Linked DNA regions of Homo sapiens: region 2 is linked to region 1. Evidence: fine-mapped expression QTL. A gene starts in region 1. The other region holds a variant in brackets. All regions are shown on one strand. Distances are from middle to middle. Region 1 holds the start of TRAPPC13 (trafficking protein particle complex subunit 13). Region 2 overlaps ADAMTS6 (ADAM metallopeptidase with thrombospondin type 1 motif 6).

The links.
Region 2: its variant is fine-mapped to the expression of TRAPPC13 in unexposed skin (GTEx, PIP 0.97).

The regions. Positions count from the first base shown.
Region 1 is chr5:65,622,155-65,627,541 of GRCh38, forward strand. It overlaps TRAPPC13 (trafficking protein particle complex subunit 13), which reads left to right and starts at 2,873. Exons shown (of 13, transcript NM_024941.4): 1 at 2,873-2,952. The coding sequence starts at 2,907. It overlaps TRIM23 (tripartite motif containing 23), which reads right to left and starts at 2,179. Exons shown (of 11, transcript NM_001656.4): 1 at 2,040-2,179. The coding sequence starts at 2,120. SHLD3 (shieldin complex subunit 3) reads left to right here and starts at 2,873. Exons shown (of 2, transcript NM_001365341.2): 1 at 2,873-2,952. RefSeq lists enhancers at 1,849-2,178, 2,309-2,388.
Region 2 is chr5:65,469,123-65,474,509 of GRCh38, forward strand. ADAMTS6 (ADAM metallopeptidase with thrombospondin type 1 motif 6) reads right to left here. Exons shown (of 25, transcript NM_197941.4): 2 at 4,455-4,830; 3 at 1,656-2,020. The coding sequence starts at 4,551. Among named protein-coding and RNA genes, the nearest start is that of ADAMTS6, 10 kb to the right of the region's middle. The variant T/C (reference allele first, on the strand shown) is at 2,167.

The DNA of each region.
Region 1 (5,387 bases):
CAATATCAGATTTTTTATCTTTTATTTTTCAGATGGAGTCTCACTCTGTCACCCAGGCTGGAATGCAGTGGCACAAACTCAGCTCACTGCAACCTCCGCCTCCTGGGTTCAAGTGATTCTCCTACCTCAGCCTCCTGAGTAACTGGGATTAACAGGCCCACACCACAATGCCTGGCTACGTTTTGTATTATTAGTAGAGACGGGGTTTCGCCATGTTGGCCAGGCTAGTCTCAAACTCCTGACCTCAAGTGATCCGCCCACTTTGGCCTCCCAAAGTGCTTCCCAGGCACTTTGTGCTTTACAGGCGTGTGCCACCGCGCCTAGCCACAATATCAGATTTTTATGTTACTGTTTTCTCTAATGATAAAAGCCATGTCATTATCAACTTGTTCACAAGCAAAAGGCCATTTTACACAGTATTAGCATTATATACTTCAACTTTTACCTTCCAATAAATACTTCTTGCTTTCATCTATAGAAATGACAGTGAGATTTTTTTAGTTTATGCTACTATACCTACTACAAATTATGGCATGAAGATTTTGTCAGAAAGGACTATTTCATTGCACAGTTCAGGAATATTTTACATGTTAAGATGAAAATGAACAAGGTGAGCCTCCAATGTATCAAATTCTGTGCTGTAAGAAACTGGAGTTACATCAGGCTTTGGTACACTTTTGAGACTGTAAGGCAAACAGGGTAACAAAAAAATAGATACTGCAATGATACCCATTCCAATTATGAAATAAAACTTAAACTTCAAGTTAATTCACAAACTGCTCTTCAAGTATTCTCTACTTAGCAAAAGCACAATTCAATAAATAAAATCTCAGTCACACAACATGCCTAATAATGAGGGCTCCTTTGCATATCAGATATGCCGTGTACCTGTAGAATAACTTCATTAGTACCTAAAGGTCATCTGAATCAACAACCACCAATATTCACTGATACTAAATTGTGGGAAGAAATGTCTCATTTGCTGTCATATAAAACCAACATTACCTGAATAATCATAGGTGTCTACTTTTCAAGATGTGAAAAAAACTTCATATATTACCTTGATCAGTAATTCATAACCCTGGTTGCACATTAAAATAACTTCTGGTAATTCCTAAAATATACTGATGTCAACCTCATCAGAACTGGAGGAGGAGTGCATCAGTAGTGTACTAAAACTCCTCAGTGATCCTAATATGTAGCCAGGAATGAGAATTATCAATCTCTTAGATTAGAGATGCTCCTGAAGGTTACTCTATAAACCAATGGGATCAGTTCTCCCCTCCATATCTTTCCGTGCACAACAGTGGAAGGGAAAAATGAGTGCCACATATTTCAAATGATTTTTTAGCAAATTGATTCTGGAGCATGTATACATGGTAGAATCTCAAACTTCAAGCATAAGAAAATTCATAAACTCTATCGTTAATGCCCAGCTATGACGATGCTGCAGACTTGTGCAAAGAGTTAATAGACTGTACTACTAACAGGGGAGGGGGCAGCTCACCCAATAACAGATGTCTGATTACAGACGCAGTACAAGAGCGAAAAGTACAGACTTTAAAGCCGGTCAACCCGGGGCTCTGCCACACACTGTTTACCTAAACCTGGGTTTCCTCCCTGTAAAATGGGAATTCACATCTACTTCATAAGTAGATATTAACGAGCTAAAACACCTAACTTAGTACGTAGTTACGATGATGATGACTCAATTTATAATACTAAGCTAATTAATGTCTGTTGAGTTTAACTAAAAGCAGAGGACCTGGAGAAAAGACCGGTCTAGGTCACTGCCACTGGCCCGCAAGCTCCTTTTCACAAATGTCCCGATGATGACATGTCATGAGCAGAAGACCAGGCAATTTCAGGCCATAGGAGAGAAAGGATGCAGAGGACAGGACGAGACTTGTAATGCCAAAAGGGGCCCAGAGGCCGCGCATCCCACCTATCGAAGCCTGGGCCGCGGCGATGCCGCCAGGTCTCCAGGATGAACCGAAGGGAGGCCGATGGTGGAGAATAGAGCACGCAAGGTCCCTCACCTTCACTACAGCTGTCCCCCGGCTGCCCTGCCGGCCACTGTCTACTCCCGCTCCGAGCTTGTTTACAACCAGGGTAGCCATCCTCGCAGGGGAAGCGCCACAGAAACAGCCTTCAGAGTCCTCAACTGAGAGGCGGGGTTGAGCCACCTACCCAGAGGCCTCTGCGCACGCCACCGGCGCACAGGCGCAGTAGGACACTGGGCGCCGCTTAGCCGACTCTTACTCCTCCTCCCCGCAATCGTCGGGTGGTTAGTTGCACAGCCTCGCGCATGGGCACTTTTGTTATTTTTCATTATGTAGTCTGCAGCTGCTGGAGGAAAGACAAGAAAAAAAAAGAAGGGACAAAACGATTAAAGTTTTGGGGTGAAAACTCCAGATCCTTTAATGATTTTTCCTCTCGAATCCAAACCAGCCAGGGCGTGAACTGAGGGCGGTGAGGGGGTACGGGCATCTCCCTGCATGCAACGCGGTTTTTGTATAAACTACAAATCCCAGCATGCCACTCTCTCTCTCTCTCTTTTTTTTTTTTTTTTTTTTTTTTAAAAAAAAAACTCCGGCAACGTTGGCCTTTGGGAGGCCGCGTATTGTTACCTAGGGGTGGTTTCTTTTCCTGCAGTCGCGATGTGTGATTGCAGATGGAAAACAAAGTATTTTATGCCTACGTTTCTAAGATAGAAGAAATGGACTTGTTGAAAAGAAGCCAGTTTGTAAAGGACACAGTAGGAGAATTTAAGGTACCACCACCAGAGAGAGGTTGAGAGTGCGTTTGACTTTTGGTTTTGCCAAACGCGAGGTTTTCCGTTTCCTTCCGGGGCAAGTTGAACCTGTCCAGCCCCCGTAGGCTGTGGGTCAAAAGTGCCGGTCAAAATGGAAGTGAATCCCCCTAAACAGGAGCACCTGCTGGCGCTAAAAGGTAAACTTTTGCGAACCTGATTCCCCCTTTTCTGTTTCCTTGCATTCCCTACTTATCGAAGCCTTTGCCATGTAGGCCTCATCCTTCTTAAACACTCAGTGCTCGCCCTCCTGCTCTGTCCTTTGCCGCCAAGCGGGAGGAAGCGATTTCTCCTGGATGCTTTTTAGGTTTATGGGCCCCTTTCTAGAACGAAATAGATACCTGGTAAATCGTTCTTTCTGATCTGTGCTGCTTCAGTCACGAGATTTTAGCCGCAGAAGCTGACGTCCCGCTCCTACCGTGGAGATCTCTGTGAATTACAGCGGGCATCCAAAGTGCTTTTTCCTTCTGTCTCTTGTTTCTTCCTGTGGCACTGACGAAGTTAATCAGGCTTCAGCTTCCCCTGTAAAATTAGTATTGCATGACAGTAGTGCAGAGAATTTAGCAATACATAGTAATACAACATATAACTTAGATTTATTCAAAACAAACTGCAGTTTACTTCAAATCACTGTGTATGTGGGAAATATGTCCGAGATCTAATGTCAACTCTCATTTTTTGTACACAGCCATTTTGAGTAAGTTTGGTGATTTAATTAGATCATTATTTAGGAAAAAACAGCAGCACTTTTTTTTTTAGGACAATTTTTTTAATGCCTATTTTCTGGAAACCTTTTATTTGAAATCTTTTCAGCTTTATTTTATTTGTTTTTTACTACAACAAATGCGCTTTTTGTTTCTTGGATGCCTTAATATATGGTTAACAATGACTTCTTGAATGAGCTGAGGAAATGCTCAATAAACATTCGGGTTCAATTGAATTGCGCTTACTTTACTTATGGCATCCATTTTGAGGAACGCCTTATCCTTCCCATTATGATGTAGTCATCAGACTTTCTAGAAGCTCATCAGTCTCATATAATGATGCCTGTGTTAGCGAGATTGTCTCTTACTGTGGAACTTTGTAATGTTTAGTGATACAGTGATGGGACCTGTAAGCTTAACCTGAGCAAATGATCTAGACTAAAATGGAGATTAAAATGGATTGTTACTCGTGGAGAAGAGGGAAAAGAAGAAAAGCAACTAATTGTCGTGTTCTTTATCTCACAATCTCACTTCAAGTATGTGGAGTAAATATTAATTCTCAGAGTTTAAGTAACTTTTCCAAGATCACATAGCTAGTGATTGAGGCAGTGTTTCAACGCAAGGCCTGCCTCTCTTTCCAAGAGTCCGTGTTGCCTCCTAAAGAATGAAGCAGCATTCTCAGAGATAATTCCTCTACCAGCTACTCCGATGGGAATTTGGAACAGTTCTATTAACTGCTACGTGTGATTTATACAAATTAGAAGCTATTAAAAACAGTTAAATTGCAGCCGCGCGTGGTGGCTCACCCCTGTAATCCCAGCAGTTTGGGAGGCCAAGGCGGGTGATCACAAGGTCAAGAGATCAAGACCATCCTGGCTAACATAGTGAAACCCCGTCTCTATAAAAATACAAAAAGTTAGCCAGGCGTGGTGGCGGGCGCCTGTAGTCCCAGTTACTCAGGAGGCTGAGGCAGGAGAATGGCGTGAACCCGGGAGGCGGAGCTTGCAGTGATCCGAGATCACGCCACTGCACGCCATCCTAGGCAACAGAGCGAGACTCCATCTCAAAAAACAAACAAACAAAAAGTTAAATTCCAGTGATACAGAGACTGCCACTGGGAATTTTTAGTTTTCTGTTATTCTTTTTTTTCCAAAACCAAGGATACCTAAGAAAGAATATTTAAGCAGCCTAAGCCAGGCGTGGTGGCTCACGCCTGTAATAGCACTTTGGGAGGCCGAGGCTGGCAGATCACTTGAGATCAGGAGTTGACACCAGCCTGGCCAACATGGCGAAAACCCGTCTATACCAAAAATACAAAAATTAGCCAGGTGTGGTGGTGTAATCCCAGCTACTCGGGAGACTGAGGCAGGAGAACCGCTTGAACCTGGGAGGCAGAGGCTGCAGTGAGCTGAGATTGCGCCACTGCACTCCAGCCTGGGTGACAGAGTGAGACCCTGTCTCAAAAAAAAAAAAAAAAAAAAAAAAAAGAACAATAAGCAGCCTAAACGGACAAGTGCTTCAAAATTGACTGATAGTTTCAACTTTATTAAACCTCTTTAGTACCATCTTATAGTTAACCCATTGTTCTAGTTAATCAACAATTTTCACACATTTCAATGTGCTGATGCTGAATGCCAAATGTATTAATTTAAGTGGTCATTTAAGTTCACTTTATCTTTTAATATGTAAAATGTTAAAGATAATATCTTGTTATTCTTGGTTGGGTGAGGTGGCTGATCACTTGAGATCAGGAGTTCGAGACCAGCCTAGCCAACATTATGAAACCCCGTCTCTACTGAAAATACAAAAATTAGCCAGGCGTGATGGTGTGCACCAGTGGTCCCAGCTACTCAGGAGGCTGAGGCACAAGA
Region 2 (5,387 bases), 150 kb before region 1:
ACCTACTATGTATTCTCTGTCTTATTACATGTCAGGAAAGAAAAAATTAATAGGATGCAAATATTTTAAATTTTGTCCCTAAATGTGGTTCAAATTCATTCTGTCTTCTTTATTCTCAATGCCATAGTCTTCGAATAGGCCCTTATTGTCTCCTACATGTTCTAAATTATCTTCATATCTACAATCACTCTTCTCTCAAATCCCACAATGGAATTAGTTTTGTTCTTGAATGTGCTCATTTCATCACCCTGTTAAAACTAGCAATGGCATAATTAATGTTAATGCCAAACATAAATAACCTAGTCAATAACTAGGAATAGTATTTTTCTATGATAATGAATAGTGTGCCATTTTAACATATGAAAAGTTTTAGAACACATTTTGGATAATTTTATTTAAAAAAATAAATCTGTTTTATAGAGAAAGTCCTAACACTGCTTATAGAGAAACTAGTAATGAGTATACTCAATTTGTCTATTTGTAGAAATTAAGCCTAAATCTTACAAGCTAAGTAAATATTTTGGTTCATTTTACTTAACAGTGATAGAAAGTAGACAATTGGAGCACATTCCTATATACATCTACAGTGAAATGTTTTCCTCCATTGTGTAGTTCTTGATAGTCCTTTCAAATTTAAAACTTATTTAAACCCAACTCGAATTATAGTTATTTTATATTGAAACAGAAATAAGAATATGGGTATGTTATAATAAAAAAGAAAAAGTTTCTGAAAATGTTCCTTGAGCATCAAAATGTTTTTACCCTTTTCACAGATACAGCTTTAATGGAACAGCTACATTAGCCTGAACAGGGTAAACACAGAAGAGAAAGCATGGAAATTTGCTTTGTTTTGCAATTATTACTATGTGCAACTTTGAACTGTGTATTTACCATTAGACTAGAATGGATTCAAATGCCCAGGATAAACCCTGTAGTCTTGAACCCATTTTCTTTTTTCCATTCTTTCTTAAAAATATATTTTTAGAAATGGGTGCCTCGCCATGCTGCCCAGGCTGGTCTTGATCTCCTAGCCTCAGGTAATCCTCCCATCACGGCCTCCTAAAACACTGGGATTACAGACATGAGCCACCTCACCCAGCCTAGAACCCATTTTCTAACTAAAATAAGATTTATATCAATCTTCATATAAATGTATAAAAAATTATCTCATAGACACTGTATAAAAGATTTTACTTCGAGAACTTATAACTGTAAGTAGGTCATAAGAAATTTTAAGATATGTTACCTACCAAAGAAAGATATTATAAAAAGAATGTCAGTGTTGTGGCTTCCTGCCATAATACACATATACATACAAACATACCCTAAAATTCTTCAAAAATGACTGAGTTTTGTTTATGCATAAAAGATATCTTATTTGAACAGAAAAACATAAGTCTAAAGGGAAATCTGAAGTTTTGTTCATTCCTCTTCTAATAATAGAGTTTTAAAAGCTGCCCTTTGAAAAGTCAATACATTATTAAAAAGAAAATCAAAATCAAAGGCAGCAGAAATAGCAAAAAATTTTAAACTATTACCTTCCTACTTAAACTACCTATATATATATATATTTTTTTTTTAATCTGAGGAAAGACATTTACATTGCAAAATTCTTATTTTCCCATCAGAAGTTTAAAATTATAGCATCTACTTACCAACCCAACACAGTTGCTTAAAGCCACTTTAGTTGTACTACGTTGATCTTGCAAATATCCTGTGTAATGACAGTTGTCTAAAAAATCATGTTTCCACTGGGGTCCATCTTTCCCCCAATATTCTACTGTAAAATGTTTGGACACAAAATCTGTGTTGAGAGTCAAGTTTAGATGAAAGTGCTTGCCATAGGCTGAAAGTTTAAAAAATAACTTAGATACTGCCTGCTGTGGATCAATAGGGTCCATACTCCGTCTTCTCCTTGAGTGTTTATCATTTTTCACAGTAAAGCTGAGAAATGCTCCATTTTGATCAACCCTTATTGGAATAGTTAGCTGGTAGTGTTCAAGATAAGTCAGGAATTCCTCTTTGTAATCACAAGGCAGAGAATCCAGAAAAAAAACACATGGAAGAAAAGAAAATTTAACGGAACAAAGAAGCAGCAATATAAACAACAACTATGTCAATTAAAACTATGAATCATTATATGTGAGGTATGTACAAAAAAAGTTA[T/C]ATTAAACAAAAATGAAAGAATAAAAGTTTAAAATCTGAAGATTAAGTTGCCATCATTTTAATATTACTTGTGAAGGACTATTTTACTTTTTTAATTTTTAAAACATGGATCCTAAGAGCTAAATTCTACAAGAAATATTAAAATTTTACTTTGAAATAAAAAATAATGAGAAGCACACATATGTAAAAGAAAAGAGTTTAGCTCAGAATCTGTTTTTGAAAGTTATCCAAAAAAGAATCTCTATAGCCTTGTAGAAATTATTATTTTTTAAGAAATCATCACACGGTGAAACCCCGCCTCTACTAAAAATACAAAAAAATTATCCGGGCGTTGCGGCACACGCCTGTAGTCTCAGCTACTCTGGATGCTGAGGCAGGAGAATCACTTGAACCTGGGAGGTGGTGGTTGCAGTGAGCCGAGATTGCGCCACTGCACTCCAGCCTGGGCGACAGAGCAAGACTCCGTCTCAAAAAAAAAAACAAAACGAAAAACAAAAACAAAAACACGTCAATGGGAATGTAAAATGCTGTAACCACTTTGAGAAACAGTCTGACAATTCCTCAAAATTTTAAACATGGAGTTAACCATATGATCCAGCAATCCTACTCTCAGGTATATACACAATAGAAATGAAAACACACATTCACATAAAAATTTAGATGTGAATGCTCAGCAATATTCATCATACTCAAAAAGGGGAATTAAACCAAATTTCCATCAATTGATGAATAGACAAACAAAATGTAGTATATCCACACAATGCAATATTATTTTACAATAACAAGGAATGCAGTAGTGATACATGCTATGACATGAATGAACCTTCAGAACAACTGTCTTCATAATCAAAGTTCATTATCTAACATTTAAAACATTAAGTAAAAGAGCAAGTCACAATATGCCACATATCATTGCATTTATATGAAATATCCAGAATAGGGAAATCTCTACAGACAGAAGGTTTAGTTGCCTACAGCTGGAGGTGAAGGCTGGTTTGGAGGGAATTTGGAAGTGACCACTAAGAAGTATAGGCTTCTTTTTGGAGTGATGAAAATGTTCTAAAATTGATTATGTTGGCGATGACACTAGTGCCAAAAAATAAGATGAAATAAAATAAAATAGGTTATTGTGATGGTTGTACAATGCCGAAAATACTAAAAACCACTGAATTTTATACCTTAAATGGGTGAATTCTATGGTATGTGTAGTAATATCTCAATAAAGCTATTTTAAAAACAGCTTGACTAAAATTTCAGAGAACTAAATGAGGAACATATTTTCCTCATTTAGATGTACTAAACATTTTCCATCTACCTTCTTAGCTGTACCTTCTTTCAGCTAGATTTACCACTAAGGTAAACCAAATGTCTGCTTATTTGCCTCAGTGTCTATACATGGAGTTTACACACTAATATAAACTCCTATAAAACCATAACCAAATGTAAATAAATTCAAAGACAGTGTTTATTTCACTTCTTATAAATAATTAGAGTTCATACTAAATGTCATGGCTTCATTGATTTACTTTGACAGCCACACTTTTTAACATGGATTTCTAGATACATACATCAATCTGTAATAGTCTTGAAAATCTGGTTCATCGGCACCAAAAAATTATCTATTACTATGTATTCATGGGAGGGAAATCCAAAAGGTATGCCTCTCAATAATTCTATAAGGACTGGACTGGTCCATGGAAAACAAAATGACATTTACTCCTGGGCCTGCTTTGTTAAGATCATTTCTACGATATAAAGCTCAATTCTATAGATTAAAATTATAAAGATTAGAATGTGAAAAGTTGCACTTCTTACAGTTCTCATTCTTACACTCAGATTCTAGTCTTTAGATCAGAACTCTCAGGTTTGCAAAAGTATTTTTTCACAAAGGGTCCATATTAAAAGGGTCCTGTATCATAATTTATCTGGTTTCTTCTTCCACAGCATAAATGTTTGGATTCTCTTTGAACATGTCCTTGCCCATAAACTCTAGTAATGAACAAGCTTATTAAAGTTTAAGTTTCAGAAGAACAAGGCCTGGGGTCTATCATTTTCCAAGAAAGACCAGTCAACTCTAAAATCCACGGGATGTTAAATACTAGTAGGACAAGTTAAACGACGCATAGCCCTTAACATTTATGAAACTAATACCGAATTGACACAGTAGGCCTCTATTCCTATCACTACATATCCCAAAAAAAACTATCCACCCAAACTAAATATGCAGAATCTTTTCTTGTCCAATTAATAGCAATATTTTTTGTCAGTTTCAAAAGCAAGAATCCTACCTTGAGAACTGTATGAAAGCCTGTGGTCACTATGAAATTCCGATGAAGCCATGATGAGGCTCAAAATCCAGGTCAACGTCTTCCACAAAATTTCCATAATTTAGAAAACTGGATGATTTTTTTGAGGGCTACCTATGTGCTAAAGAGTCAATACCATACCAAAATCGAAGCATAACAATTTTATTTCTTTAAAACTTCTTGCAAATTAGTTATTGGATGTTCCACTGTTTAAGAGCCACTTTTATCCAACATCCTGCACTTTCTTCTATATCTGGATTCATTTTCTCAATCCAAAATGAAAAAAATAATGATGGTAAAAGTTTTCATAAGCAAAGCATTAGGCTGATTAGTTACTAAAGTATGGCCATTTTTTAACCTAGAAAAAAAAAAATTTAAGTTAACTGAAAAATATCCAGAATGGAAAAATCCAAGTCCTATATAGTACTGAATCCTTGCCAAAAGACATAACTACAAAATAATATAGTTAAATTAGACCATTGTTAGTCTTTATAGTCTAAATAAACATTCACAAGATTAGACACAGAATTAGAGACCAAAATGGTTATCAGCATAATGCCAGAGTTACTTAATAATCAAATAAGGAATCTAAAGAGAAATCATAATTCTTTTTTAAAAACTTTGAAGATAACAATGATGGGCAATGAGTTAACTTCCTTTTGATAAAATAAAATCGGCTGACTTCACTACTTCAGTTCATTATATGTGACAAACAATATGTAATCCCATTCCATAACATGCCTTTTAAACACACTCATATCCAGATATTGTTGTGTTGCTTTATAAGGCACCTATCATTTTTTTTTCTGACAAAGTAGATCTACAAATAGTGACATTTAGCAGCCATCTGTGAATACTAAGACAGTATCAGAAGCTAAACTTCTAAAAAGTTGAACTGTATGTACTATAACCCTT